4 linked regions of the Homo sapiens genome follow. The protein of the gene in region 4 purifies or fractionates together with the protein of the main gene of each other region. This does not show direct contact. Each region holds a gene or a part of one and is shown on either strand. Other genes may lie near its edges.

What was found.
Region 1: the proteins of LRRCC1 (region 4) and ATP1A4 purify together in Homo sapiens (affinity purification with mass spectrometry; 2 studies listed by BioGRID and IntAct, with this or other methods). This does not show direct contact.
Region 2: the proteins of LRRCC1 (region 4) and POTEE purify together in Homo sapiens (affinity purification with mass spectrometry; 2 studies listed by BioGRID and IntAct, with this or other methods). This does not show direct contact.
Region 3: the proteins of LRRCC1 (region 4) and MIB1 purify together in Homo sapiens (affinity purification with mass spectrometry; 2 studies listed by BioGRID and IntAct, with this or other methods). This does not show direct contact.

What each region holds. Positions count from the first base shown.
Region 1 is NC_000001.11:160,154,576-160,161,603, reverse strand, and holds part of ATP1A4 (sodium/potassium-transporting ATPase subunit alpha-4), read right to left. Parts: intron 6,560-7,028; coding exon 6,356-6,559; intron 5,560-6,355; coding exon 5,446-5,559; intron 2,603-5,445; coding exon 2,468-2,602; intron 2,196-2,467; coding exon 2,078-2,195; intron 1-2,077. UniProt on the Homo sapiens protein: This is the catalytic component of the active enzyme, which catalyzes the hydrolysis of ATP coupled with the exchange of sodium and potassium ions across the plasma membrane.
Region 2 is NC_000002.12:131,212,533-131,219,560, forward strand, and holds part of POTEE (POTE ankyrin domain family member E), read left to right. Parts: intron 1-5,056; 5' UTR 5,057-5,151; exon of another isoform or gene 5,152-5,777; 5' UTR 5,778-5,870; coding exon 5,871-6,391; intron 6,392-7,028.
Region 3 is NC_000018.10:21,743,787-21,750,814, forward strand, and holds part of MIB1 (E3 ubiquitin-protein ligase MIB1), read left to right. Parts: intron 1-7,028. UniProt on the Homo sapiens protein: E3 ubiquitin-protein ligase that mediates ubiquitination of Delta receptors, which act as ligands of Notch proteins.
Region 4 is NC_000008.11:85,124,213-85,131,240, forward strand, and holds part of LRRCC1 (leucine-rich repeat and coiled-coil domain-containing protein 1), read left to right. Parts: intron 1-579; coding exon 580-727; intron 728-2,476; coding exon 2,477-2,625; intron 2,626-4,962; coding exon 4,963-5,167; intron 5,168-5,706; coding exon 5,707-5,846; intron 5,847-7,028. UniProt on the Homo sapiens protein: Required for the organization of the mitotic spindle. Maintains the structural integrity of centrosomes during mitosis.

The sequences.
Region 1 (7,028 bases), on a different chromosome or scaffold from region 4:
TACATATATCTTGTGTCATGGTTTAGTCTAGTTCTTCTATTTTATTCCTTCTGCTATGGTTTCCTCACACTTGGAGAAACGGGATTTAATAATTAATCTCAGTGTGTCTAGAGATGGGGTTGGGTTGATGTCAACCTCAGGGAAGGCTGAGAAGGCCAAGCATCCAGCACCCCAGGCCAGACTGGCTTCTTCATACACCTTCCATGTATTGCCAGAGAAATAGCTTGGGCTCCCTTGAAGATGCATGAGAACCCAAAGAGAAGTCTGTGCCACAGCCATGTCAAGGTCTACGGTGATGAGACATGGGAGGCAAGGGTAAAGGTTAAAGTTATGCTACTAATTTGCAAATTGGTCTAAGGCAAAGGTTAAAAGTCTAGGGTAAAGGTTAAAGGGCAAATTGATCTAGGGTAAATGCTATCGGTCTGTGAATTGCTGAGAAATTCCTCAACTGAAAGTCCTTCCGCCCAGCTCCTTCTACCTAGCTCCACCTTCTTGGCCACATGTTGGGTTTTTTTAGCCTCCTACAAAACCATTTTCTATCTAAACAGACCCTTGCTTCCCAGTCGAAATGCCACCATCCACTTTCCTCCATACCCTTTATCTGAACATATACTTAGCTGATGAAAACCCTACTTTGTAAGGGTAAATTTGGGCAAATTTTTTCCTAAAATCTAATAGTAGACATCTAGTGTTTTTGGGGAAAGCTTGCTAACTTGCTTCTGTCCAATCAATTTTAAAACATTTTTAATATATGTATTTTATTTTCTAGTTGGATTCTTTCTCATAGTCTATTCTGTCTTAACATTACGCTTCTTCTTTAAGGTATTTTCAAATTAAATAGCAATCTTTCAGCACAGAGCAGGGTCTGTGGAAGGAGCACGAGATATGGAGACAGACCTACATTAGAATCCCTGACCCGCCTCCTTTCTATTGAGTTGTACTCTTGGATATGGTGCTTAATTTCTTTGAACCTTAGTCTGCTACATGTAAAATAGGGATAATATCTGGTATTGTGCGCATGTGGGAATTAGAGATAATATTTATAATATTTAACAAATACTATGCATTCAAATAAAAAATATTTCTAGGCTGGGTATGGTGGCTCACGTCTGTAATCCCAGCACTTTGGGAGGCCGAGGAGGGCAGATCACTTGAGGTCAGTAGTTCGAGACCAGCCTGGCCAACATGGTGAAAACCCATCTCTACTAAAAATACACAAAATAACTGGGCGTGGTGGTGGGCACCTGTAATCCCAGCTACTCGGGAGGCTGAGGCAGGATAATTGCTTGAACTTGGGAGGCAGAGGTTGCAGTGAGCTGAGATCACACCACTGCATTCCAGCCTGAGCAACAGAGAGAGACTCTGTTTCAAAAAAACACAAAACAAACAAAAGAACTATTTTTAGATAACCAAACATTTGTTCTTAAGCATGAATAATAGTTTTCAAGTGTGCTCCATGGAGTCTTCAGGCCTCCTTAAGGGGAAAGGGCAAAGGAGAGATTGACAGAATGATGTTCAGTCCCTTTTTATTACCACTTTGCCAGAACTGTCTCCCAGTTCAAGGATTCCTAGATTCTAGGAGCAAAGCCAAAGTTTAAGTGGTAAAGTCTAAGTGGCACCTCTGGTAATTCAAGTTTCCAATGCCAATATCTTCTCTTGGATAGGGGACTAGTTAGAAGTTAGGGCTTACCTTAAGAGAAGAATGACTTAGCAGGGCTGAACAATTTTCCTCCCCTCTGTGCCATTTTCAGCTTAAACAGCATAGTCCATTCACAAGCTAAAATAATAGCTAATAATTGTAGGTCACTTACAATGTATTAGGTCTTGTGCTGGGCATTTTACATATATTATCTCAATTCACACGAAAATCTACAGAGTAACGACTTTTACTGTCATCACTGTGCGAATGTGGAAATGATGACCTTGACCTTTCACCAGAGGTCATACAGCTCGTGATGGAGAAGCTCGACTTTTTACTGGCTCTTACCTACCTCGCTACCTTTAGAAGACAGTTATTAAAATCTTTATGTTTTGGTGCCTGCTTTTGAATCTATGCTACTTATGGTTCGATATTCACCTTCCACACAGTTGGTGGAAAAGAAGCAGATGTTTCGGGTCTCCAGAGGGTTCTCATGGGTGAAGTCAGGGGAGCGGCTCTGGGGTTCTGACTCCCCAGTCAAGGATGAGTTGTCCACCTGGGATGGGAGAGGGGACGCGTTGTAAGGTGAGCATAGGAAAAAAGGCAGATTTATTTACAAAAATAGTATGTCTTCATCTGGTCACCAACATCATCACTGACAGACTGAGAGAAACAAATTTACACATCTGTTGTCTCTAACATCAAATCTGCACTTGTAACTTCTCAAGATTCTGAGTAATAAGCTTATACTTTCTCTAACGGCCCAGGTGTCTACCCTGCCATGAGATCACGCTTGGGTCCCTCACATAGCTTTCGGCATCCCCTCACCTTACATCCTTGTGCAGAGATAAGCCGGAGGTCAGCAGGGACTCGGTCTCCACCCTTGATTTCCACCAGGTCTCCCAACACCACCTCTTGTACATTAATTTGCATCTTCTCTCCTCCTCGAATTACCAGAGCTTGCTATGAGAGGATAGTGCAGGATCATTTCCAAAACTTTTGGCTTTCCTCATCCCACTCTTAGCCTAAAACCTTCTGTTATTGGTCTCCCTCCTCCTTACTCCCCTTTCTTACTGTCACCCACCACATCATTCTTGAAGGTGTCTTTGGCAGATTGCAAATTCCCATGATGCTGTTTGCAGGGCCCTTTGCAATGTGACTTTGACGCTCTTCCCATTAAGAGGTGGAGTCTATCTCTCTACCCCTAAACCTGGGCTTGACCACGTGACTTGCTTTGGCCCATAGAATGAATGTGATGGAAAGAGGAGTTTAAAAAGTGCTTTCAGGCCGTGACTGGTGGCTCACACCTGTAATCCCAGCACACTGGGAGGCCGAGGTGGGAGGATTGCTTGAACCCAGGAGTTTAAGACCAGACTGGGCAACATAGGGAGACCCTGTCTCTACAAAAATTGAAAAAAAAATTAGCCAGGTGTGGTGGCATGCACCTGTAGTCCCAGCTGTTTGGGAGGCTAAAGTTGGAGGATCGCTTGAGCCCAGAAGGTTAAGGCTGCAGTGAGCCGTGATCACATCACTACGCTTCAGTCTGAGTGACAGAGTGAGACCCTGTCTCAAAAAATTAAAAAAAAAGTGCTTTCATGCTGGGGCTTGCATTCCTGTTTCTGAGAATCCTCTGCCACCCTATGAACAAGCCCAAGCTAACCTCTCTGTAAAAAGAGAGATCACGAAGAAAAAGGCCCCAGCTGTCCCAGTCATCTCAGCTAAGGGCCCAGACATGTGGATGAGGTCATCTAAGACCATCCAGCCCCAGCTGAGGAACAACAGCACAGCCACAGAATTATGAGAAACAGGAGCTTGCTATTTTAAGCCACTAAGTTTTAGGGTAGTTTGTTAGGTAGCAAAAGCTAACCGACCATGCCTAAACTCCTAGTCTCCAAAACTGCCCAAACACTTTGTCCCAAAACTCTTACCCAAGGAAGGAATTAAGTGATACCAAAAAGAGAAGGAAATCCTGGGCTATACTACTGGAACATGATCATATTATAGGGAAAATGTGGAGCCTATTCCTTTGCAAGTTTCCAGTCCCGTGCCTAGGAACCTCTGTTTACCGTCGTATTCTTTCCAGGTACCTTTAAAAAACATTTAACTTGAAAATAATTTTAAACTTTCAGAGAAGTTGCAAGAATAAAAATAGCACCAAGAACACCTATATAACCTTTATCCAGATTCACCTATTAACATTTCACCCCAGTTACTTTGTCATTTGTTTTCATCCTCTCTCTCTCTGTGTATACTCTTTTCCTGAACTACTTGAGGGTAAGTTACCTACATCATGATCTTTTATCTTAAAAACTTCATTGTGCATTTCCCAAGAATTAAGATATTGTCTTAAACAACCACAATGTAGTTATCAATTTCAGTAAGTTTCACATTGATACTTTAATCTACTGTATTAATCTGTCAGTATTCCAGTTTTGCCAATTGACCCAATACATCCTTTAACGCATTATCTTTGGTGGAGCTGGAGGACATTGTCCTAAGCAAACTAACAGGAACAGAAAGTCAAATACCTTATGTTCTCACTTATAACTGGAAGCTAAACACTGAGTACATATGGACACAAAGAAGGGGAAAAACAGACACCAAGGCCTACTTGAGGGTGGAGGGTGGGAGGAGCGTGAGGACAGAAAACCTACCTATCAGGTACTATGCTTATTACCTGGGTGATGAAATAATTCGTACACCAAATCCCTGTGACACACAGTTTACTTATATAACAAACCTGCACATGTATCCCCGAATCTAAAATAAAAGCTCAAAATAAAAAAGTAAAAATAAAGCATTACTTTCTCCTCTGGCACAGAATCAGATCTAGGGTTAGATATTGCATTTAGTTGCCACGTCCCTGTCTTTTTTTTGAGACAGCGTCTCTGTCTGTCACCAGGCTGGAGTGCAATGGCATGCAATCTCTGCCTTCCGTGCTCAAGCAATCCTCCTACCTCAGCCTCCTGAGTAGCTGGCACTACAGGCACGCTCAGCTAATTTTTAAATTTTTTTGTAGAGATAAGGTCTCACTATACTACTCAGGCTCGTCTTGAACTCCTGGACTCAAGTAGTGCTCTTGCCTCGGTCCCCCAAACGGTTGGGATTACAGGTGGGAGCCACCACCCTCGGAATAGTTGTCATGCCTCTTTAGCCTCTTTTTATTATTATTATTATTTTTTGAGACAGGGTCTTGCCCAGGTTGGTCACAGTTCACTGCAGACTTAAATTCCTGGGTTCAAGTAATCCTCCCGTCTCAGCTGCCTGTGTAGCTTGGACTACAGATGTAGACCAGCTATTTTATTTTATTTTATTTTTGTAGAGATAGCATCTCAAACTCCTGGGTGATCCTGTTGCCTCAGCCTCCCAGAGTGCTGGGATTACAGGCGTGAGCCACTATGCCTGGTCTGTTTAATCTGGAACATCCCCACAGCTGTTCTTTGTCTTTGAGGTCATCGATATTTGAAGAATCCAGCCACCCCCCACCGCACCCCGCTCCCACCCCCACCAACACTTGTCTCTTTAAAAAAATAGAATGTTCTTATTTGGGGTTTGTATGGTGTTTCCTCTTTAGATTCAGATTCTGCCTTCTAGATCAGAGCACTTCATAGGTGACGTTATGTCTTTCTCAGGGTTTCACAGCTTTTCCAGGTACTTTTAAGGACTGATACAGTACCTTGACCCCCTCATCACCAACCTCACTCAGCTCACTTATCATAGGATATAATTTTCCACGGGACTTCATCATTGTGTATTTGGCCACATCCTGCTCCTGCTCCCACTAGATCCTCCCACTCCAATCCTACCTGAGGCACCATGTTCTTAAAAGACTCCATGATCTTGGAGCTCTTGGCCTCCTGATAATAGGAGAAGCAGCCAGTGACGATGACCACGACGGACAGTACGATGCTCAGGTAGAGCTGAGGGTGGGGAAAGAAAGCGTTTATCAGTGGGACCTTGTCGTCTTCTTCATCCTCAGAAAATCAGTCTGCAAGGGGCACAGCAGTTTCACCAGGTGTAAGAGACCGTAAGACTGAGTTGAGAGCAGAGGGGTAGAGAAGAATCTGAGGTGGGACCAGTACACTTGGCTTCCTGGGGAAGGAACCCTGAGCCATGGTGAGCCGTCAGCAAAATTCCTGGTCAGAGAAGGCCTGTATCTTTCTCTCCAGGAAGGCTAATCTCTGGATGGAGGGGGTGGATTGTGAGGGAGGCTGGGAGGAAGGAGATGAGGTTAAAATTGTGGAGAAGAGAAAGGGACTGCAAAGTGCTTTGGGGATCAATTGGGAAGGTCATCAAAGAACAGCAAGTTTTTCGGGGACATTGTGCACCTCAGGGAACTGGACCAGAAGCTTTTTAGATTAAAAGGTGAGAGGAACCAAGATGGAACTTAGAAAGTGGAGTATTAGGGATTTTGGTTTATTACATTAATGTACATTTATTACATTATTATGTAATGTACATTTATTACATTAATGTACATTTAATTACATTTTATAATTAATTACATTCATTACAATGTAATTAATCAATTACATTGTAATTAATTACAATCAATTACATTTATAATTAATGTACATTTATTACATTATTACATTAATGTAATAATGTAATTAGGGATTTGGGCCAGAGGACTTCAGGAGTGCTAGGCTGCTGAGCAAAAGAGTGTCTGGGGCTAAGCAGAGATAGGGCTGGCTAGTAGTAGCTGAAGAGACTCACGTTGTCTTTGGTAGGCTCCTCATTGAAATATATCTGGATGCTGTAGGCCACAAAGCAGAGAATGGCCCCAGTCCATAGTAGGAGGGAGAAGCCTCCGAACAGTTGCTTACAGAATTTGACCCATTCTGGAGTGGTGGGGGGTGGGGTAACAGTATTGGGTCCACCTCGAGTCAGGATTTCCTTTGCCCTTTGGTGGCTATGGCCCTGTGCAGAGAAGAAATAGGGTTGGATAGAGAGCTGTGAAAAGAGGAACAGCCATAGCAAAAGGGAACCTGACATTTGGAGCCCCAGAATGGGTCTAGAGACTAAAGACGCTTTCAGAAGGTCAGTCTGGAAGTTCTTCCTGGATAAGGTGAGGTTTCAAAATTTGCATTAGAGGAGGGATGTCATTTAGCATGCTTACATAGGAAGGTTTTTGTTTATGGATTGATTCACAAACCTTTTTGAACTTGAGAACCTATCTCGGGTCCTAGGTGCTGAGGATACCAACATGAATAAGAATGGTCCCTACCCTTAAGGTGCTCCAGTGGGGAGATAAATACATACAGATAATTATAATGTGCAGGGCCAATGTCATGATGAAATATAATACTTAATGTTGATAACATATTAACACCACGCTTTGACTCTCCAACTTAGAGGGAATAAGATCTAGTGTTTGGTAGCACAATAG
Region 2 (7,028 bases), on a different chromosome or scaffold from region 4:
CTTCATTTTCTCTGCCACCATTTCCTTTGTTTTCTTTCTTTTTTTTTTTGAGATGGAGTTTTGCTCTTGTTGCCCAGGCTGGAGTGCAATGGGGCGATCTCGGCTCACTGCAACCTCCGCTTCCTGGGTTCAAGCAAGTCTCCTGCCTCAGCCTCCCGAGTAACTGGGATTGCAGGCATGTGCCACCATGCCCAGCTAACTTTGTGTTTTTAATAGAGATGGGTTTTCTCTATGTTGGTCAGGCTGGTCTTGAACTCCCGACTTCAAGTGATCCACCTGTCTCAGCTTCCCAAAGTGCTGGGATTGGAGGTGTGAGCCACCACGCCTGGCTCTCTGCCACCATTTTCAAGAGTATTGCCATCTGCCTGAGCAAACCTGGTTCATCACCACCTCTTTGCAAGAGAAAAAGGAAGTCGGGAGAATTGTGTGTAATTTTTTTTTTTTTGAGATGAAGTCTCGCTCTTGTCCCCCAGGCTGTAGTACGATGGCCCGATCTTGGCTCACTGCAACCCCTGCCTCCTGGGTGAAAGCAGTTCTCCTGCCTTGGCCCCCTGAGTAGCTGGGATTATAGGTGCCTGCCACCACGCCCGGCTAATTTTTGTATTTTTAGTAGAGATGGGGTTTCACCATGTTGGCCAGGCTGGCCTAGAACACCTGACCTCAGGTGATCCACCCACCTCGGTCGGCTGTGTGTATTTTAAGGCAAAGATTCACAACCAAAAACAAGGCTTTATTAACTTTTGTATCTAAGAACCTGCAGTGTCGAGCCCTCTTTTATTCCTAGTATTACTACTTTAGGTGTGAACTTTTTATCTTTATTTTACTGATTCCTCTAGAAGTTTATGCATTTTCTTGACTGCTTTAAAGACAATCTATATTGTATCATTTTTCAAGCCCGTAGAAATGTGTAAGGCCTATAATTTGAACACTTGTTATTTTTAAGGTTATGAGCATGTAATATACCATTGATACATGGAAGAATATGTATAAATACCACTAGATAGGTTATATTGAAGAGATAATATCTAAATTTTTGTCCAGAGTTGATGGGGTGCAGTTTTGTAGGTGTGTTTCTCAATACATTGTGTCCATGTTTTAAAGCATATAGAAATTTGAATACTGTTTAACCTCATATAGTCCTTGTTTATAGGTTTAATATTTCTAAAGACTAAAGACGTCACAGCTCCCTTTAAGATTCAGTAATACTAATAAAATTTGAGATATACAGGGTTAGAGTCCAACAAATTCAAAGGAAAATTGTTGAATTATATAGCCGTAGAGCAGGAATGAAACCCAGGTTCTAAGTTCCAAGGGGGCCATGAGCTACCATACAGGTGCATCAGTGACTGGGCATAGAGTTGGCAAAATTATTTAAGAGAGTGAGCTGTGGATCCTAATTATGTGAACATGAATTTTTGAACTGCATGGTGCCTCAGTTTATCCATCATTACAGTGGGGACAGTAGTAAGTTTTTCTTTTTCTGCTCAGTTGTCTGAATTATTACCCCAGTCTCTCTTGTTGCCACTCTTGATGCCCACATGAGAGGATCTAAGGTAATTTCTGACAACCTGGGACTCCTTAAGGAAAAACAGAAGGTTCCACAAACCCCATTTTAGGAGAAACCTCTGTTTTCCTCATGGAACCCCAAGAACTTTAAGCAGACAGGTCCCTCTCAAAAATCTAAGGCTCTCCTCTGTTTTGCCTTGCGTTGTCTGACCTTTTTGGTTTGGATGGGCATCAGAAATTAGTAGGGGAGAGAGATCTAAAGAAAATTGTGGATATGAAGATGTATTTATTATAAGAAATGTTATGAAGGAAAGAAATGTTATATGAGAGAGGATCTTATATGGCAAATTGTTGTCCTAAAGTAGAATGACTAATTACAAAAGAGGGAAATACAGGACAGGTCAGATAAATTTAATCATGTCGTAGATAGTCTGTGGAAGTTGTGTTATGGTTCATAAAGTGGGAAAGAAAAACTGAACAACTGCTAGATCTTTTCTTGTCTAGAAGTGTTGTGTATGTGATGTATATATAATGGCTCGGCTTAAAAGAAAATGAAAGCTCTTAAATATTTTGTAAGAAAAATAGAAGCTCTAATGCCTTTTATTTCATGTGACTTCAGTAATCTTTGGGAAATAAAGATGGTGTTAAAGTCAGTGGTAAAATAAAAATATCTTCAAAATTTATCCATTTGGTCTAATTTAAGTCAGAGGTTAAGTTTTAGAAGTGCTTTAATGTCATAAATTGATGCTTTGACTTTGGAAAATAGTTTTGTTTACCTGGTTTGGAGCCGTTAGATTTCTAGGTAAGGTCTCCGGACAGGTGGAGTTAGCCATGTCTCCTAGCTATGCTGGAAGGAGTCAGATTTTATCTGCAGTTCTGTCTTGTATCCTAGACTCTGCACCTGGTATGCAATTAAAACTTACTGCTGCTGCTAATCTCTGGGTTCCATTTAAAATCCTTCCATCACATGAATACTATCCCCTGTACTAAATTTTTCCACAATTAAATACTTAGAATCATTTTTGCTGACTTGACCCAACCATTAGTGATATATTTTAAAAATGCTTATAATGTGTCACAATATATTTAGCAAATGTAGGGAATGACATTTTTACTTTCTTCAGCATTTACATAGCATTTATGTAGCAATGCTATCTCAAGTATTTTTAATCATTTAAACGTTAGATAATAGATATGTTTTTGATTCCTTTTTTCTATGTAAATAAATATAATTATGAGATATTTAGTAAATAGTATCAATTGCATATGTCACTTACAGAATATACAATGCAATTAGGATTATTTTTATACACTACATCATATTTACTTGTTGGCTTTACAATAACTTAGAAATAGTATTCTGGATTAACTGTGTGACTCATGAGAGAGGGAGTTTGTGCAATTATAGTCTTTACAAATTTTTACTAGATTTTTCAAGACTTACGCTAGAACTTTGAGAACAAGGTAATAAATAAGCATATCTGTTAATATCACCTTTGGTCAACTCTTGGCTAGACCCAATGATAATGTAGGAATTAACATAATTTTTCTACTAAAGGTGTTGGATTTGTTCCGAGAGACCACAGTTCAAAGTCATTGACAAAGAAAGTTTAAAAATTGTTAGATTAAAACCTTTTAGTGTGTTTGAAATTGTTTTGTAGAAAAATATCCTGGTTTGCATTGATAGGTTTTTTTTTAAATAACAACTAGACCAAGAGAAAGGGAGAGTAGTGATAAATGTCCATGTTTTCGAGTTGAAAAGTAACAATCAGTGTATTACAACAGATGGATTTGATGTCAAATTACAAATGCTGAGAACGTTATATGTAACTGACTTGCCAGAGTAATTATACAAGGCAAAGAAAGGAAAGGCATCTAAATAGGAAGGGAAGGGGTGAGATTGTCTGTGTTTTAGACTCCACAAAAAACCCATTACAGCTGATAAACACTATATTCAATAAAGTTGAGAGTTACAAAATTAACATTGGTTTCCATACACCAATGACAAACTGTTATCTGAAAAATAAGGTAATTCCATTTATAATAGCAACAAAACAAATATATAAGTAAATCAAAGAGCAAGGAGTAATTTTAATGAAGGATGTGAACGATTTGTATACTGAAAATTATAGCACATTGATGAAAGAAATTGAAAGTGACAAATAGAAAAAGTCCTATATTTGTCAACTGAAAAAATTAATATTGTCAAAATTTCAATGCTACTCAAAGCATTCTACAGATTAAATGCAACCGCTGTCAAATTCCAATGTCATTCTTCACAGAAATAGAAAAATTAGTCCTAAAATCTGAATGGAACCACAAAAGATGCTGAAAAACCAAAGCAATCTTTAGCAAAAAGAACAAACCTGGAGGCATCAGACTACCTAATCTTTGACAAAGCAAACAAGAAAATGGGAAAGGACACCCTATTCAACATATGCTGCTGGTATAATTGGCAAGCCACATGCAGAAAAATGAAGCCGTTCTTCAAAGGTTAAATACAGAATTACCACATGACTCAGTAAATTCACTCCTATGTATACACCAAAAATAAATTAAAACAAATGCCTTACACATAAAGGTATTTATAGCAACAAAAAGTAGGAAACAACAGAAATGTCCATGAATTTTGGAGTGGATTAATAAAATGTGGTCTGTCCATAAAATAAAATATTACTTGGCAATGAAAAAGAAAAACATATTAATACATGCTCCAAAAAGGATGAACATTGAAAACATGATAAATGAAAGTAGTAAGTCACACGTAACTATATTATTATGATTCCACTTACATGAAATGTCCAGAATAGGCAAATCCTTCCAGAATAGGCAAATTCTTAGGAAGTAGATGGATGATTGCCTAGGGCTGGGAGAGGTTTAAAGGAAGAATGGGGAAAATAGGGAAAGATTGCTAATGGGTGCAAAGTTTCTTTTAAGGAGCATAAAAATGTTCTAAAATCGTGGTGATTGTTTAACTAGTTAATACACTTAAAAAACTGAATTTTATACTTTAAATGAGTGAATTAAATAATATATAAATTGTATCTCAATGAACCTGTGAAAAAAGTTAAAAAATATGTGGTATGCATAAACAAAAAGTTCTTCATTTTATTTCCTAGGGTTTTGGGGAAAAGGTGGTGTTTGATTATATGAGTAAGTTCTTTAGAGGTGATTCAGGAGATTTTGGTGCACCCAACACCTGTGCAGTATACACTGTATACACTGCACCGGGGCAGGAGCTGGCTGCAATCCTGTGGCCCCAAATGCCCCCTTGCTGATGGCCTCGTGTTCTGGGTGCGGAGCAAAGAGGAGCAGGTGTTGAAGGCACCTCAGGCAGGCCCTGGGCTCGGTGGGCGTCTTGTGCTCCGCGATTTTGAGGCCATTTGCAGCCAGCTCCGTCAGCCCGAGCTCCCAGCTGCAGCTGCTGCCATGCACAACAGCACCGCCAGGAGTGTCCTGGGGGCTTTTTTCAAAGGAGGCTGTCAGCATCCTCAAGTTCCAGACGCTTAGCCCCAGTCCTCCTTTAAGAGGCTTTTTTTTTTTTCACCAGAGGCTTCTCAGTGGCTTGAAAGCTCAGCTGACTCCCACGAAGTTTGCCGGAACTCAAGGCTGTCAGTGACATTCGTGGCGCCAAGACTTAAGCAGGCGCGTTGCATGCATCGGCCAGTGTCTGTGCCACGTGCCCTGACGCCACCTGAGATAAGCACGCCGCACGCCGCACGCCGCACGCGCACGCCGCACGCGCACGCGCACGCCCGGCAGCAGCTTGCTGGCTTGTAACGGCTTGCACGCGCACGCCGCACGCGCATAACGGTTTGGCCGGCCTGTAACGGCTTGCACGCGCACGCCGCACGCGCGTAACGGCTTGGCTGGCCTGTAATGGCTTGCACGCGCATGCTGCACGCGCTTTAACGGCTTGGCTGGCCTGTAGCGGCTTGGCTTGGCTTTGCGTTCTTGGCTTGGCTTGGCGTTGGTAGCTTGGATTGACGTTTCCTGCTTGGATTGACGTTTTCTCTCTCGTGTTCCTTTGCTGGGCTTGACCTTTTCTCTGCTGGGTTTGGCATTCCCTTGGGTGGGCTGGGTGTTTTCTTGGGGGCGGGGGTTGGCCCTTTCTGGGGTTGGCCCTTTCTGGGGTGGGCGTGGGGTCGCCCAGGGGGGGCGTGGGCTTTCCTCGGGTGGGTGTGGGTTTTCCCTGGGTGGGGTGGGCTGGGCTGGAATCCCCTGCTGGGGTTGGCAGGTTTTGGCTGGGATTGACATTTCTCTTCAAACAGATTGGAAACCCGGAGTTACCTGCTAGTTGGTGAAACTGGTTGGTAGACGCGATCTGTTGGCTACTACTGGCTTCTCCTGGCTGTTAAAAGCAGATGGTGGTTGAGGTTGATTCCATGCCGGCTGCCTCTTCTGTGAAGAAGCCATTTGGTCTCAGGAGCAAGATGGGCAAGTGGTGCTGCCGTTGCTTCCCCTGCTACAGGGAGAGCGGCAAGAGCAACGTGGGCACTTCTGGAGACCACGACGACTCTGCTATGAAGACACTCAGGAGCAAGATGGGCAAGTGGTGCCACCACTGCTTCCCCTGCTGCAGGGGGAGTGGCAAGAGCAACGTGGGCGCTTCTGGAGACCACGACGACTCTGCTATGAAGACACTCAGGAACAAGATGGGGAAGTGGTGCTGCCACTGCTTCCCCTGCTGCAGGGGGAGCGGCAAGAGCAAGGTGGGCGCTTGGGGAGACTACGATGACAGCGCCTTCATGGAGCCCAGGTACCACGTCCGTGGAGAAGATCTGGACAAGCTCCACAGAGCTGCCTGGTGGGGTAAAGTCCCCAGAAAGGATCTCATCGTCATGCTCAGGGACACTGACGTGAACAAGAAGGACAAGCAAAAGAGGTAACCAGGCCTGGGCTGGGAGGAGGTGGGACGTGGGGGGATGATGGGGACATACCCTCCTGGCGGGGGAGGAGGGGGACCTGGCTTTCTCGCCTCCGCAGGCCTCACACCACCCTGGATGTGGAAACCTCAGAGAGGTCAGGGTACAGGGCCCTTTATGAACAGCAACACAAAAACAAAACTTTAGCTGATTTCCAATCATAATTTCCCTCATAGAACACTAATAGACTGTTTTAAAGTGATTTAACTTGCAAAATTAATTAAGTCAATGCAGCAGATTATTTTTAATCTACAGATTTTAAAACAATGTTCTATACATTATAGAAAAGTGTATATTGAGAACTAAGAACAAAGCCCCATAACACATCAACTTCAGGGCTAAATATTCTTCAAATAAAATCCAGTATGGATTTTATATCAATGTACAGTATGTAAATATGTTCTTTACTGAGGAACCTTAGAAGGAAACTGAAATGGGAAGATGGTTCCTGTGCTTGAACAGGAAGATTGAATTTTCTTAAGATGTGAGCTTTTTGGCTGGGCGCGGTGGCTCACGCCTGTAATCCCAGCACTTTGGGAGGCGGGCGGATCACGAGGTCAGGAGATCGAGACCATCCTGGCTAACACGGTGAAACCC
Region 3 (7,028 bases), on a different chromosome or scaffold from region 4:
GTAAAGTGTAACAGATTCTTTACTACGGTGATTTTTGAAGGGACATTAATGTTATCTATATGTTTGTAGTATGGGGTGTATCTATCATATTAATAGTTTTATTATCTTAATATAAACGTAGATGTTTTTCAGAAGTAACTGTTTTAGAATCTTAGTTTAATAAGATAATTTTATACATTAATTTGTTATATGTAGTGGTTTATCTTGTTCATTTGGTCTTTTAACAAACATTTTAAGAGCAGGATAGCCAACCTTCATATGAAATACTTGTTGAAATATATTTTAATTTCAACCTTTTAAATTCTTCAGGGTTTTTTTTTTTTTTTTTTTTTTAGAACTGAGCAAAATTGTAAGCTCCTGGCTCTTGTTTTGCCCCAGGACTATAATACTACTTTCAGTGTTTTCCTTTTTCTTCAAAATATTTAATAATCAGTGTTCACTGACATTTTATTACATTCTATAAGATTACTCAATATTTATTAAGTACTTGATATTTATTTGCATAATATTAACATTTTAAAAATTAACTTTTGTTTTTGAAACAATTGTAGTCTTCCAGAAAAATTACAAAACTAGTAAGAGTTGCCTTTTGCCCTTTACCCACCTTCTTCAGCTGTTAATATCTTAGCAAGTACAATGATCAAAACCAGAAAATTAACACTAATACGGTAATACTGTATTAACTAATCTATACACCTTATTCAAATTTTATTTATTCAAATTATATGCAGTGGTTATTATTAGTGTCCTACTAGTATTCTTTTTCTCATCCAAGATCACACGTTGCATTTAGTGGTCTCTTCCAATCTGGGTGAGTTCCTCAGTCTTTAGTCAGTGTCAAAGTAATGAAAAACAATCTTGTTATCTCTCAAATTGGGTGTTTCTGCTGCTTTTTCATGATTAAATTCAGATTATGTATTTTCGGCAAGAATATCATAGAAATGATGTTTTGCCCTTGTTAGTGCATCGTACCAGGAGGTACATGGTGTTCGTATGTCTCATTAATTATAGCGTTAACTCGGCTAGGTCACCAGGAATTTTACCAACTGTTGCTTTTGTACCAGCAATGTGATGCCAGTATGAAAAAGATAACTTGTATCTTACATATTATTGTGAAAATACTTTTGACTTCATGAAGTCCCTCAAAGGGTCTTGAGGATTTCCCTAGAGGTTGAAGAATAACACTTTAAAAGTCACTGCCCTGGAGAGAATCTCTATTTGAGCACATAGAAGCTTGTATAAGAATGTTCACAGCAGTTACTATGGTTTTGAGATAAATAAAATTTAAAAAAGAATGTTCACAGCAGTGTTGCATGTAAAAACAGAAAATTGGAAAAAACTTAAATGTACCTTAGCAGGAGACTGGATAAGTTGTATGAATTTGTATAGTGCAGTACTGTATAGAAGAGAATGTTAAGCAAATAAAGTAAGTTGCAAAAGAAAACCTACGGTCTGTTAAAGTGCGGAACAAAACTATTTTAGGGTAGGGTTTTGCAGCCTTGGCACTATTGACATTTTGAATTGGATAGGATAATTTTTTGTTATAGGAATGTCCTGTGCATTGTAGGCAGGCATCCCTGGCCTCTACCCATTAGCAGCAGTAGCACCCCACCTCCTTGTGGCAACCCACAATATCTCCAGACATTGCCAGATGTCCCCTAGTGGGGGCAAAATTGCTCCCAATTGAGACTCATTGGTTTAGGGATATGTACATGCGTGGTAAAAGTATGCCACGTAAAGGTAAGATAAACACTAAATTTAAGAGAGTGGGACATCCTTATGGTGAAGGGAGTGGAGAGCACGATTGGTGGAAGTACACCAGGGGCATTTAAGTATTTTGGTAATGTTCTGTGATTAAACCTACCCCATGGTGAGTGCATAGGTGTTAAACACACACACACACACACACACACACACACACACAAAATTTTATTTTTTTTGAGACAGTCTCCCTCTGTGGTCCAGGCTGGAATGCAGTGGTGTGACCTCGGCTCACTGCAACCTCCGTCCCCCAGGTTCAAGCAATTCTCCTGTCTCATCCTCCTGAGTAGCTGGAATTACAGGCATGCACCACCACACCTGACTAACTTTTGTATTTTTGGTAGAGACGGGGTTTCACCATGTTGGCCAGGCTGGTCTCGAACACCTGACCTCAAGTGATCCATAGCCTCAGCCTCCCAAAGTGCTGGGATTACAAGTGTGAGCCACCACACCCAGCCCTTTCTATATTTTTGTGTGTGTCATATTTTTGTACTTAATTTAAAAAAAAGCCTTATATTTATCAGAGGGAGAACTGAGGTTGCCTTTGATTATTCATCATTTGTTCCCTAGTTCCACCTATATTATATGAATAGAAAATTTATTGCAGTATGATTGGGAATTAAGAAATGGGTAACCTTCAGCATAAGATTCCTTGCAACTTTTCTGGGAGTTAAGGATTCTGGAGTGGTTGGATCATTGTGAATCTTTCTGATACGATTTTTCTCACTACATTTTGAAGATTTTGTCTGGGAGTTGTATGCGGGTCTCTAATATTTTGGCATATCAGCTTTATTTTTTCTTTCAGGACACACATGATATGTTTGAATTTATGGTCTAGGATAGTTAAACTTTGCAGAGAGGAGCATTTAGTATCTGTTTGAGTGATATAACGTCTGTCTTGTTTCGAGATTCATTTGGCTCATTTGTAGTGAGCAAGAAGATTTTGGGACTATATGGGATGTTATTTAATTAGTTTGGACTAATTTTGTAAAGTCTGTAGTCAAGTAGGTATAGTTGACTTTTTATCATCTAGGCACTGATTTTATAGGAGTTGGAGAAAAATGTGTTTTTATTTATGCTTGCTTTGTGTTCACTTGACTACAGTGTTGTATTGTTACCAGAGATAATGGAGAAAATGAATGTAGATTTCCTGTTAAGGTTCTGTCATTCTTCGTGTCGATAATACAGAGTTAGAGGTATAGAAAATCAGCTTTATTCAAAACCAGCTTCTGGTCATAGTTCATTCAAACTGTTTTGGGGGTAGTTCTTTGTCCTTGTCTTTGACCGCTAGCAAAGAATGCCTCTCCAGTCATACGTGGAAAAACTTCTCAGATGTTTTGTATTCAGTTGAAGGTTTAAAAGGGCTGACCCTGGATTAAAAAAATGAAATGAATTAATAATCCTCAGCTTTTCTTTATCAGAATAGAGTCCCCTATTCTGATCTGTTTCTAGAACCACAGTAGAAAGGGGTATTTGTCAGGACACAAAGCCGTAGGAAAAAACAGGATTTGAGGGAACAATGTTTGGGGAGCAGGATGCCACACCTGGAAAGGATGAAATATCACAAAATGTTTTTTATTAATGACATCTGCAAGGAAAACTTTATTTCCTCATAGATCCTACCTATTTTAAAGGCTTCTGTAAAATGTCTTTCTTATTTTATTTCCTCCACTAAAACAATGTTGTAAATTATGAAAGTCTATCTAGTTCTTAATAGTCCCTGTAGATTGCAGCTTGGTTGAGCTGAGGACTTCAAGAAATCAACTAGTAGACCCCTGTGTCAGTACTTCTCAAACTTAAAGCACACAGATCACCTGGGGACCTTTTAAAATGCAGATTCTGGTTCAGTAAGTTTGGGATTCTGCGAGAGTATTTCTAATAAGCTCATAGGTGATGCAGATACTGCAGGCTCAAGGACACACTTTGAATAGCAGAGTACTAAGTGACTATTTGTCTACTTGAGATGCCCTGCGTTTCTGTTTTCTCCTTTTCCTTTCAACAGATTCCAAGCCTTGATTGTTTGTTGGTAATACATGTCTTTAAAACTAGATTGGCATTATTAGTTGGGGAGAAGAGAAGTGTGTACAACTGAAATAAAGGAGCATGTAACACCTTTCTAATATATGTACTTTTTGTAAGTGTAATGCTATCTTAATGTGTATTTTCGATCCTATACTTTCCAGCCTGTCCCTCTGATTAGATTAGCTATTTCTTTTTGAATGTGTTCCCAGGTAGCCACCCACCAGGGTCTCTCCTCCACCCTCTATAATTGCTAGCTAGTGTGATATCCCCACATGTGTGCTTTCATCTGTTAAAGCAGGGTATGCTGTGTTGTAATTGTCTTTTGCACTAGATTATTAGTTTAAGGGAAAGGGTCTGTGTTATTCTTGTATCTCCATTTTCTAGCAGAACCATGTCTCTGGATGAGTATTTTCTGAATCAGACACACTTTTCAAAGAGCTTTTGACTCATTGGATCAGAGATTAGATAGATATTATCCTAAAACAAGATAAAAGGAAACTCAGATTCAGAGAGATTAAGAAATTTGTCCAGTCACAAAGCTGGTGAGTGGCAGATAGTAGGGATGAATGCCAGTTGATTGCTTTTCCTCAGTATCATTCTCTTTTTCTTTTATAGTATAGTGGTTCAGAAACATGACCACCTGTAACACTTTGCTTGTGGGAAAATTGATAATGAAATGTAAACCAATTTAGAAATGAAACTTTGTGATACATCCTGTTGTAAATTGTTCAGTGCTCTTTTCAAAACCATTCTTTTTTTGCTTTGCTTTGCTTTTCTTCCTCTCTCCCTCCCTCCCTCCCTCTCTCCCCCCTCCCTCTCTCCCCCCTCCCTCTCTCCCTCTCTCCCTCTTTCCCCCCTTCTCCCTTTCTCTTCTTTCTTTCTGGAGTTTCACTCTTGTCCCCCAGGCCAGAGTGCAGTGGTGCAGTCTTGGCTCACTGCAACCTCTGCCTCCTGGGCTCAAGCCATCTTCCCACCTCAGCCTTTTGAGTAGCTGGGACTACAGGTGCGCACCACCATGCACAGCTAATTTGTGTATTTTTTTGTAGAGATAGGGTCCTGCCGTGTTGCCCAGGTTGGTCTTGAACTTGTGAGGTCAAGTGATCCATCTGCCTTGGCCTCCCAAAGTGCTGGGATTACAGCTGTGAGCCATCATGCCCAGCCTTTTTTTTTTTTTTTTTTTTTTTAAAGAGTTTCACTCTGTTGCCCAGGCTGGAGAGCAGTGGTGTGATTATAGCTCATTGCAACCTCGAATTCTTGGGCTCAGGTGATCCGCCTACCTCAGCCTCCCGAGTAGCTAGGACTATAGGTGCACACCACCAAGCCTGGCTAATTTTTTTTTATTTTTTATTTTTCTTAGAGTTGAGGTCTTGCTGTATCACCCAGGCTGGTCTCAAACTCTTGGCCTCAAGTGATCCTTCAACCTCAGCATCCCAGATTGCCTGGATTACAGGCATGAGCCACTGAGCCCTGCTTGTTTCTTTCTAGTGTGTCTTTTTTGCACAGCTAAGGTTTTACTGTATACATAGTTTGTTTCATTCTTTTTTTTCCACTTGACGTGTGTTTTCTGTATTCCTTATAAATAATCTAATATGTACTTCCTATATGGTAAAATAAGGTGACATTTATGTCTTAACTACTTAGAGAGAAATATATATGTATTTCCATATAGGTATGCCATATGTACTGTTCTTCAGCTTTCTTTTTAAATGAATATTGTCTTGGACATCTTGCAGTGTTAGCACATAAGAATCTGTCTTATTCTTTTTGGTCGGTACATAGTATTTAATAGTTAAAAAATATATTACTTAACTATTCTTTTGATAGACATTTATAGTGTTTTCTTTTTTGTCATTTTAAACAACACTGCAACAAGTATCTTTGTGTATACATACCTTTGTGTACTAATTTTTAGCTTTTAAATTAATTTGTTACAGGAATTTCTGTTATAAATGACATGGCTAAATATTGTCCTCACTGACTTTGAGAACATTTGTCTTTTAATAGAGGAATTTAACTTGTTCATATGTATTGTGACAACTGATACATTTTTTCTAATTACTGCTACCTTACTCTTTTTTTTTTTTTTTTGAAATGGAGTTTTCCTTTTATTGCCCAGGCTGGAGTACAATGGCGCGATCTTGGCTCATCAAAACCTCTGCCTCCCAGGTTCAAGTGGTTCTCCTGCCTCAGCCTCCCAAGTAGCTGAGATTACAGGCATGCCCCACCATTCCCGGCTAATTTTTTGTATTTTCAGTAGAGACCGTGTTTCCCCATGTTGGTCAGGCTGGTCTCGAACTCCCGACCTCAGGTGATCCACCCACCTCAGCTTTCCAAAGTGCTGGGATTACAGGCATGAGCCATCACACCTGGCTGCTACCTTACTTTTTAACTTTCCAGTTTTCTTGTATTTTTTTTTTTAACCAGTGAGTTAGAAATTTTATCACCTTTTTTTCTGCTCTGCTAATTATTACCTTTTAATATTTAACAAACAGATTGAAAAATTAGGTTTTTTTTGCATGTAGAAAAACTAAACAGTCTCTTTAATTACTCCTGCCCATACTTCTTTCTTTATTTTTTTGAGGTGGAGTCTCACTCTGTTGCCCAGGCTGGAGTGCAATGGCATGATCTCAGCTCACTGCAACCTCTACCTCCTGGGTGCAAGCAATTCTCCTACTGGGTGCAAGCGATTCTCCTACCTCAGCCTCCTGAGTAGCTGGGATTACAGGCGGGTGCCACCATGTCCAGCTAATTTTTGTATTTTATTTTTATTTTTTTTGAGACGGAGTCTCGCTCTGTCGTCCAGGCTAGAGTGCAGTGGCAAGATCTCAGTTCACTGCAAGCTCCGCCTCTCGGGTTCATGCCATTCTGCTGCCTCAGCCTCCTGAGTAGCTGGGATTACAGGCGCATGCCACCATGCCCCGCTAACTTTTCATATTTTTAGTAGAGACGGGGTTTCACCGTGTTAGCCATGATGGTCTCCATCTCCTGATCTTGTGATCCGCCCGCCTCGGCCTCCCAAAGTGCTGGGATTACAGGCGTAAGCCACCACGCTCGGCCTAATTTTTTGTATTTTTAGTAGAGATGGGGTTTCACCATGTTGGCCAGACTGGTCTGGAACTCCTGACCTCAGGTGATCCACCCGCCTCAGCCTCCCAAAGTCCTGCGATTACAGGCGTGAGCCACTGCGCCCGGCCATCTCCTGCCCCACACCTCTTACCTTTTTCATTGTGTTGGTTTTATGTAAA
Region 4 (7,028 bases):
TTTTGCCTCTGTAATTCTCCTTTTGCAAAGCATATTTTGTTGTTTTGTTGTTGATTAATTCTTCCATACCTACCCAATTACATTTTACATGTATATATACCCACACACACAGAGGCATTCAGTTCACTTCAAACACTGTACTTTTTTCCAGGACATACCCTGGAATTTCTTTGGTCCTACCAAGTGATAGAATCTATTAACTTTGATCCATTGTATGTCGATTTTAAACTTTTAACTCTCAAAGAGTAGTTCTATTTACTGTCTTTTCAAGTTCTTGGGTATCATCTTACCACAGTACTTTTTAAATTATTCTGATATATCCAAGAATTCTACCCTACCTGAAAATGTTGAACCCTGAACATTTATGAAATCATTATCTTTTTTAAAATCTTAAGGCACTCATTAATCAACAGAGCACACCCATTATAAAATTTATGAAGCAGTTTGTCCAAGTTACTATAATTTTATTAATATTCTTTTTAAAAAGCTGTTTGCATATACAACTAGAAATGTTAATTTAGAGAAAAGTAATGTGAACACTACTTTTTTGAGTTATTTTCTATGTTTCATTCTTTACAGTTGTAATCGTAAAATGAAACCACCTTACCTTAAAGAATTATATGTAAGCTCATCTTTAGCAAACTGTCCTATGTTACAAGAATCAGAAAAGCCAAAGACTGAAATAATTAAAGTAGACCAAAGTCACTCAGAAGACAACACTTACCAGGTATGATTTAAGAGTTAAAGAAAAAATGAGTATGAATAATTTTAAATACAGAGTCCCAGAAAAATTATGCATGCTTTTATTAGCAAAAAGTGTTTGAATTTTATTGGAGTGATGAAAATGGGTTATTTTTTCCTTCCTGATTTCCAGATTTTATGTAATGTTATTTTTGAACGAATGAAAATTACATTTTTTTATGATCAGATTTAAGTGAAATCATTTGTTACATGCTTCTGGAGGAAGAAACAGTTATGAATTTTTTAATTCTTATTCCTTAAGGTAGTGCTTCCTACTTTTTTTGGGTGTCAGACCCTTTTCAGTATCTAAAAAAATTTACAGGTCTTCTCAAAGAAGCCTATTTTTACACTCAAAAAAATGTATATATTTCAAGGTTTTCATGGACTTTCCTGAAACTCAATTTTGGACCACTGGATCCCAGATTAAGAGGTGTTCAAGGCCGGGCGCGGTGGCTCACGCCTGTAATCCCAGCACTTTGGGAGGCCGAGGCGGGCGGATCACGAGGTCAGGAGATCGAGACCATCCCGGCTAAAATGGTGAAACCCCGTCTCTACTAAAAATACAAAAAATTAGCCGGGCGTAGTGGCGGGCGCCTGTAGTCCCAGCTACTTGGGAGGCTGAGGCAGGAGAATGGCGTGAACCCGGGAGGCGGAGCTTGCAGTGAGCCGAGATCCCGCCACTGCACTCCAGCCTGGGCGACAGAGCGAGACTCCGTCAAAAAAAAAAAAAAAAAAAGAGGTGTTCAAAAATGTTTTAATTCTTTAAAATTTGCTTAACATTTCTCATGTTGAGAAACTTCAGTACTTGTGGTTTCATTATTTTATATTTTTCATTAACTTCCCCTTATATTACTTGTGTATTGTTCTTTCAATAATAGAATTGGTACATTTTAGGCTACTGGTTTCCTCCCCTTATTCTCAACTATAGAGGCTTTAATATTGAAAAATAATAATTATCATTATGACTTTGGACACACTTCATCTTTCTTCTTACTTAACCTATTGTGCCTGTGTTTCCCAAGTTACATATTCATTTTTCTCATGAAAAATCAATCTTTTCTGATTCAACCCCCGCCCCAAGTTTGTTCGAGATTAGATCCTTACCAATCTTTATATTCCCTTGCGTGCCTTGGTAAGGACTCTGTTTCCTTAATACAGAGTCTGGCATGTGGGTGCCATGCTATGAGTATATACTATTTCAAAAAAGGAATCTTATCTACTATGGCATAATAATAGCAGCTAACATTTATTGATTGGTTATTATGTAGCAGGCACTGTTCTGCACTTACCTACATGCTTTGCTACCAGTAACATAATTTTTGGCCCGGCGCAGTGGCTCACACCTGTAATCCCAACACTTTGGGAGGCCGAGGTGGGTGGATCACTTGAGGTCAGGAGTTCGAGACCAGCCTGGCCAACGTGGTGAAACCCCATCTCTACTAAAAATACAAAAAAACAGCCAAGCTTGGTGGCACATGCCTGTAGTCCCATCTACTCGGAAAGCTGAGGCAGAAGAATTGCTGGAATCCAGGAGGTGGAGTTTGCAGTGAGCTGAGATCATGCCACTCCACTCCAGCCTGGGTGGCAGAGTGAGACTCAAAAAAATAAAATAAAAAGTTTCACTGTAGCTCTTTGAAGTAGGTACTATTATTCCCCTGTTATAAATGGGAAAATTGAGGCTGTGAGAAGTTAGGTAACTTTTCTAAGTTCACATAACTTTGTTGTTTTCTTTCAGTCCCTTGTTGAACAGCTAGACCAAGAGAGAGAGAAGAGATGGAGAGCTGAGCAAGCCGAAAATAAACTCATGGATTATATTGATGAGCTGCATAAACATGCAAATGAAAAAGAGGATATTCATAGTCTGGCTCTACTTACCACAGATAGGTAAAAAGAAATTAATAAACCTGAAGATACCTCATAGCATAAACAATACTGACTTTAGAACTGGAATACATTAGTTTCAGTGTGGTTCAATCAACAACAATGTATGTGGTTTTAGTTTGATTTGAACTAATTTTATTAGACAATTTAGCACTTTATTAGCTTGTTATATCAACAAGAAATTCAGGTACATGTATTTGAGCCCTCAAGCAGGAAGGTGTCAGATAAATATTATAAGTAAAGAACAGCAAGAGACTAGAGCAGTGATTAACAAACTTTATGTAAAGTGCCAGATTCTGTAAAGGGCAGGCATTGGCAGCCTTTTTCTTTAAGCTTCATGGGTCATATTTGATCTCATCACATACTTATCTTCTGCAATGGGCTTTTGTATCATATAGCCCAGTTTCTTAATTCTGATGTTTTTATTCTATCCTCACCATTACGTCTCCCATTTTATCTGGGTTTTTTGTTTTGTTTTGTTTTGTTGTATTGCATTCTTTAATACAGGTCTGTCATTTCATTCTGTGAAAATACCAGTTTTTTAAATTACAATAACTTTTTTTCTTCTGTTTCCTGTAATTATTTCTAACGTCATGCTTTTCCTCAAATGATTATAACATGTTTAGAGTTTCTTATGGTTTCTTACCCTTGAATGAGCACTAGGTTTTTAGACTTGACATTTGCTAACACACTTTGGGAAGTTGCTCTTGGTTCCATTTCTTGTCTGATTGTGCAGTGGATAATTCCCCTTCTAAAATCTGATTTGGATAAGTTGATGTACACAGTTCACAGCCCAGTTCCCGATTTCTTTTAGGCACTTTTGTGATACTGACGTGGTGTTTTCTACCCCACTGCATGTTTCTCTGATAGGTTGTACCTGTGGAGTATAAGGACAATTCTAATACGCAACATGCATGCTATGAGAACCTCTATAATTATAAAGCTGTGATGCGTTATGTTATCACTAGCCCTTCTACCACTACCCACCAACTTCCTGCCTTATTTGTGTTTTATAAATGTCTGTCTGAATTGACACAAGAAGCTACTGGGTATGGATGAGGGAACAGGATGTCTCAATTAAGAGTGCTCTGACTACCTCAGAAAAACAGCACTCCTGCTTTCAGTAAGTGCATGAGTAACCAACATTATGTAGTGACAGATTTATAGAGATCTTGTGACTGAGTCATGGACAGATAGTAGAAGAGAAAAGATATGTCTTCCTTTTTTCAGAATGGAGCAGTTTCATGAGGCAAAGCCTGAGTGTTGTAGGAGTTGTTTTTAATTTCAATTTAGTTCCATTTGCCTTGTAATTGAAATTATTCCCAAATTTTGGCATTCTCTTATCCTTTGTTTTCAGTTATATGTGTATGAATTTTTACTTTATTCTGTATTCTAGGTATTTAGTGGGATATTAGAGGACGCTGTGTCTAGGGCTGCTAGCCAAAGTCCATTTAAACTGGAAGACTTTGGGCACACTTTATCTTTCTTCTTACTTAACCTATTGTTGTGCCCGTGTTTCCCAAGTTATGTATTCATTTTTCTCATGAAAAATCAATCTTTTCTGATTCTTCTTTTATCTGTGCCACCCCCCCACCCCCCCCACCACCACATGTTTGTTTGAGATTAGATCCTTACCAATCTCCCTGTTCCCTTATGTGCCTTGGTAGGGACTCTGTATCCCTAATGCAGGGTCTGGCATGTGGGTGCCATGCTGTGAGTATATACAATTTCAAAAAATGAATCTTACCTACTATGGTATCTTTATTATCCAAACCTCCTTGATGACCAGATCTGTTCATCTAATTATCTACTAAAAATGCCTTGCCTGTATTCCTCATAAGTTTCTTAAGATCACCATGGCCTCAGGTGGATTCATTCTTCTTCCTTATTTTATATTTCTTGCCCTAATAAATGGTGCCCCATCCAGCATCCAGTCAGTCACCAAAACTATAGAAATCTAGGAATCTTTGTTTTTTGCTTCCTTTCTCTTTCTCCTATCCCACAACCAGTTGATATTACCATCTTTATTGATACTTTTATTCATCAATTGATATTGATATCATCTTAAAAGATGTTGAACTATCTCCTCTGTATCCCAAAACTGTTACCTTTCTTTAGGCCCTTAACTGTTGCTTAGATGATTGTTCCATTTCTGTTTCTCTGTGGCTTTCCCTGCCCCTACCCATATACAGTCTAGCACGCTTTCATATAGCATATCAAACAGGAGTTGAGAGCATGAACAAAGGAAGACCAGTTCAGAGAGTACTCTCATTGAAGTCAACAATTTTATCATTTTTATATGTGTAATATACTTAACACCACATATAACTTCTGCTTTAGGCTAAAGGAAATTATTTTTAGAGAGAGAAATTCCAAAGGACAACTCGAAGTTATGGTTCACAAACTTCAAAATGAAATTAAAAAACTGACTGTTGAACTAATGAAAGCAAAAGATCAACAAGAGGATCACCTTAAACACTTAAGAACCCTCGAAAAAACATTAGAAAAAATGGAGAGACAAAAAAGGCAGCAGCAGGCAGCACAGGTATTTCTCTATTTTAATATATGAGTAGCACAGATTAACACAAATTCATAGCTTCTATCGTGAAACAAATTATACTACCTAGAAAACCTAAAAGATGTAAGGCCATATGCAAAAATTAAATTGCTGTTAATTTAACGGTCACATAGCCTGTTGAATTATGTCTAAATTAAGACTACTAGCTCTTAACACAAAGCAATTAAAAAGAAAAGTTGATGGAAATGTTGCAGGTGGTTAGGCTTTTATTCTGAGAGAGCTGGCTTTTTAAAAGGCTTTCAGGTGATTGAAGGAATTTCATTTTCATGCTTTCTGAATGGAAATTATCATTAAAATCTGTGATGCAAATAAGCAATAGTTAATGCTAGTGTATTTGTTCCTTCCAAGGCTGCACTTTGTGTGACTGTAACATCATTAATTTATTAAAGTTTGAAAATCAACTTAGTCACCGGACACTGTCATTTAAAAGGTACTTATGGAAACTGACATTAAAATAGCAGGGGAGACTATTATCTAAATAATGTAATTGTGGGTATTTTACTCAGATAAGACTGATCCAAGAGGTGGAACTCAAAGCTTCAGCTGCCGATAGAGAAATATACTTACTTAGAACTTCCCTTCATCGAGAAAGAGAACAAGCGCAACAACTTCATCAACTTCTTGCATTGAAAGAACAGGAACACAGGTAAATGAAAAATGTATCAGGAATGTATTGGCATTTAAAAAAAGAAAAAGAAAGCTACTGGTTCCCCACTACCAGTATTTTTTTTTTTTTTTTTTGAGACGGAGTCTTGCTCTGTCGTCCAGGCTGGAGTGCAATGGCGCAATCTCGGCTCACTGCAAGCTCTGCCTCCCGAGTTCACGCCATTCTCCTGCCTCAGCCTCCCGAGTAGCTGGGACTACAGGCGCCCGCCACCATGCTGGCTAATTTTTTTTTTTTTTGTATTTTTAGTAGAGATGGGGTTTCACCATGTTAACCAGGATGGTCTCGATCTCCTGACCTCATGATCTGCCCCACTCGGCCTCCCAAAGTGCTGAGATTACAGGCATGAGCCACCGCGCCTGGCCCCCACCACCAGTATTTAAAGATAGTGATTGAGCATTGGTGAAGTCTGACAGAATTAGTTAGTGGAAAATGCCGTGTTCATGTATGTATACATTAGAATCAGCCCTATAGCAAGAACTAGTAGCTAAAAAATGAATAGTTGCCTTTGTTATCAGCATTTGAGGTATAGGTTTATAACAATATAGCTTATTGTTCATTTCTTCAAACCCAGCCAAAAGTTGGTCTTTATATAGAGAGAAAATTTTTAATTGACCCCCAAGTTAATTAATTAGTAAATTAATCAGTATTCTTTATTCCTCTGAAGGAGGGGTCAGTGAACTTTTTCTGTAAAGGGTCACATAGAAAATATTTCAGGCTCTGCAGGCCATACCTAACTTTGCCTTTGTAGCACAAAAGTAGCCATAGATAATACATAAATGAACGGCATGGCTGTGTTCCAATAAAAGTGTATTTACAAAGAAAAAGGCAGTAGGTCACATTTGGCTGATGGGCTGTAGTTTCTCAACTCTTGCTCTACAGAATCTGTAATAATTTCAACATTTTCAGTTTATCTATTTCAGTTATCTATTTACTATCCTACCAGTGAAATTGTATGATTATCATATGTTAATTGTATTTATTCCGAAACCTGTTTTGTTTTGTGTCTACATAAATTTTGGTGCTCTGGGGAAAATTGTTATCTTGTATAGATGAGACAATTATAAAAGATTGGGGGAAAATAATCACAAAAATCTAGAATTTTGTACTTTGTTTCCTTTACAGGAATTTTGTACTTAGTTTCCTTTACTTAGTTTCATTCCA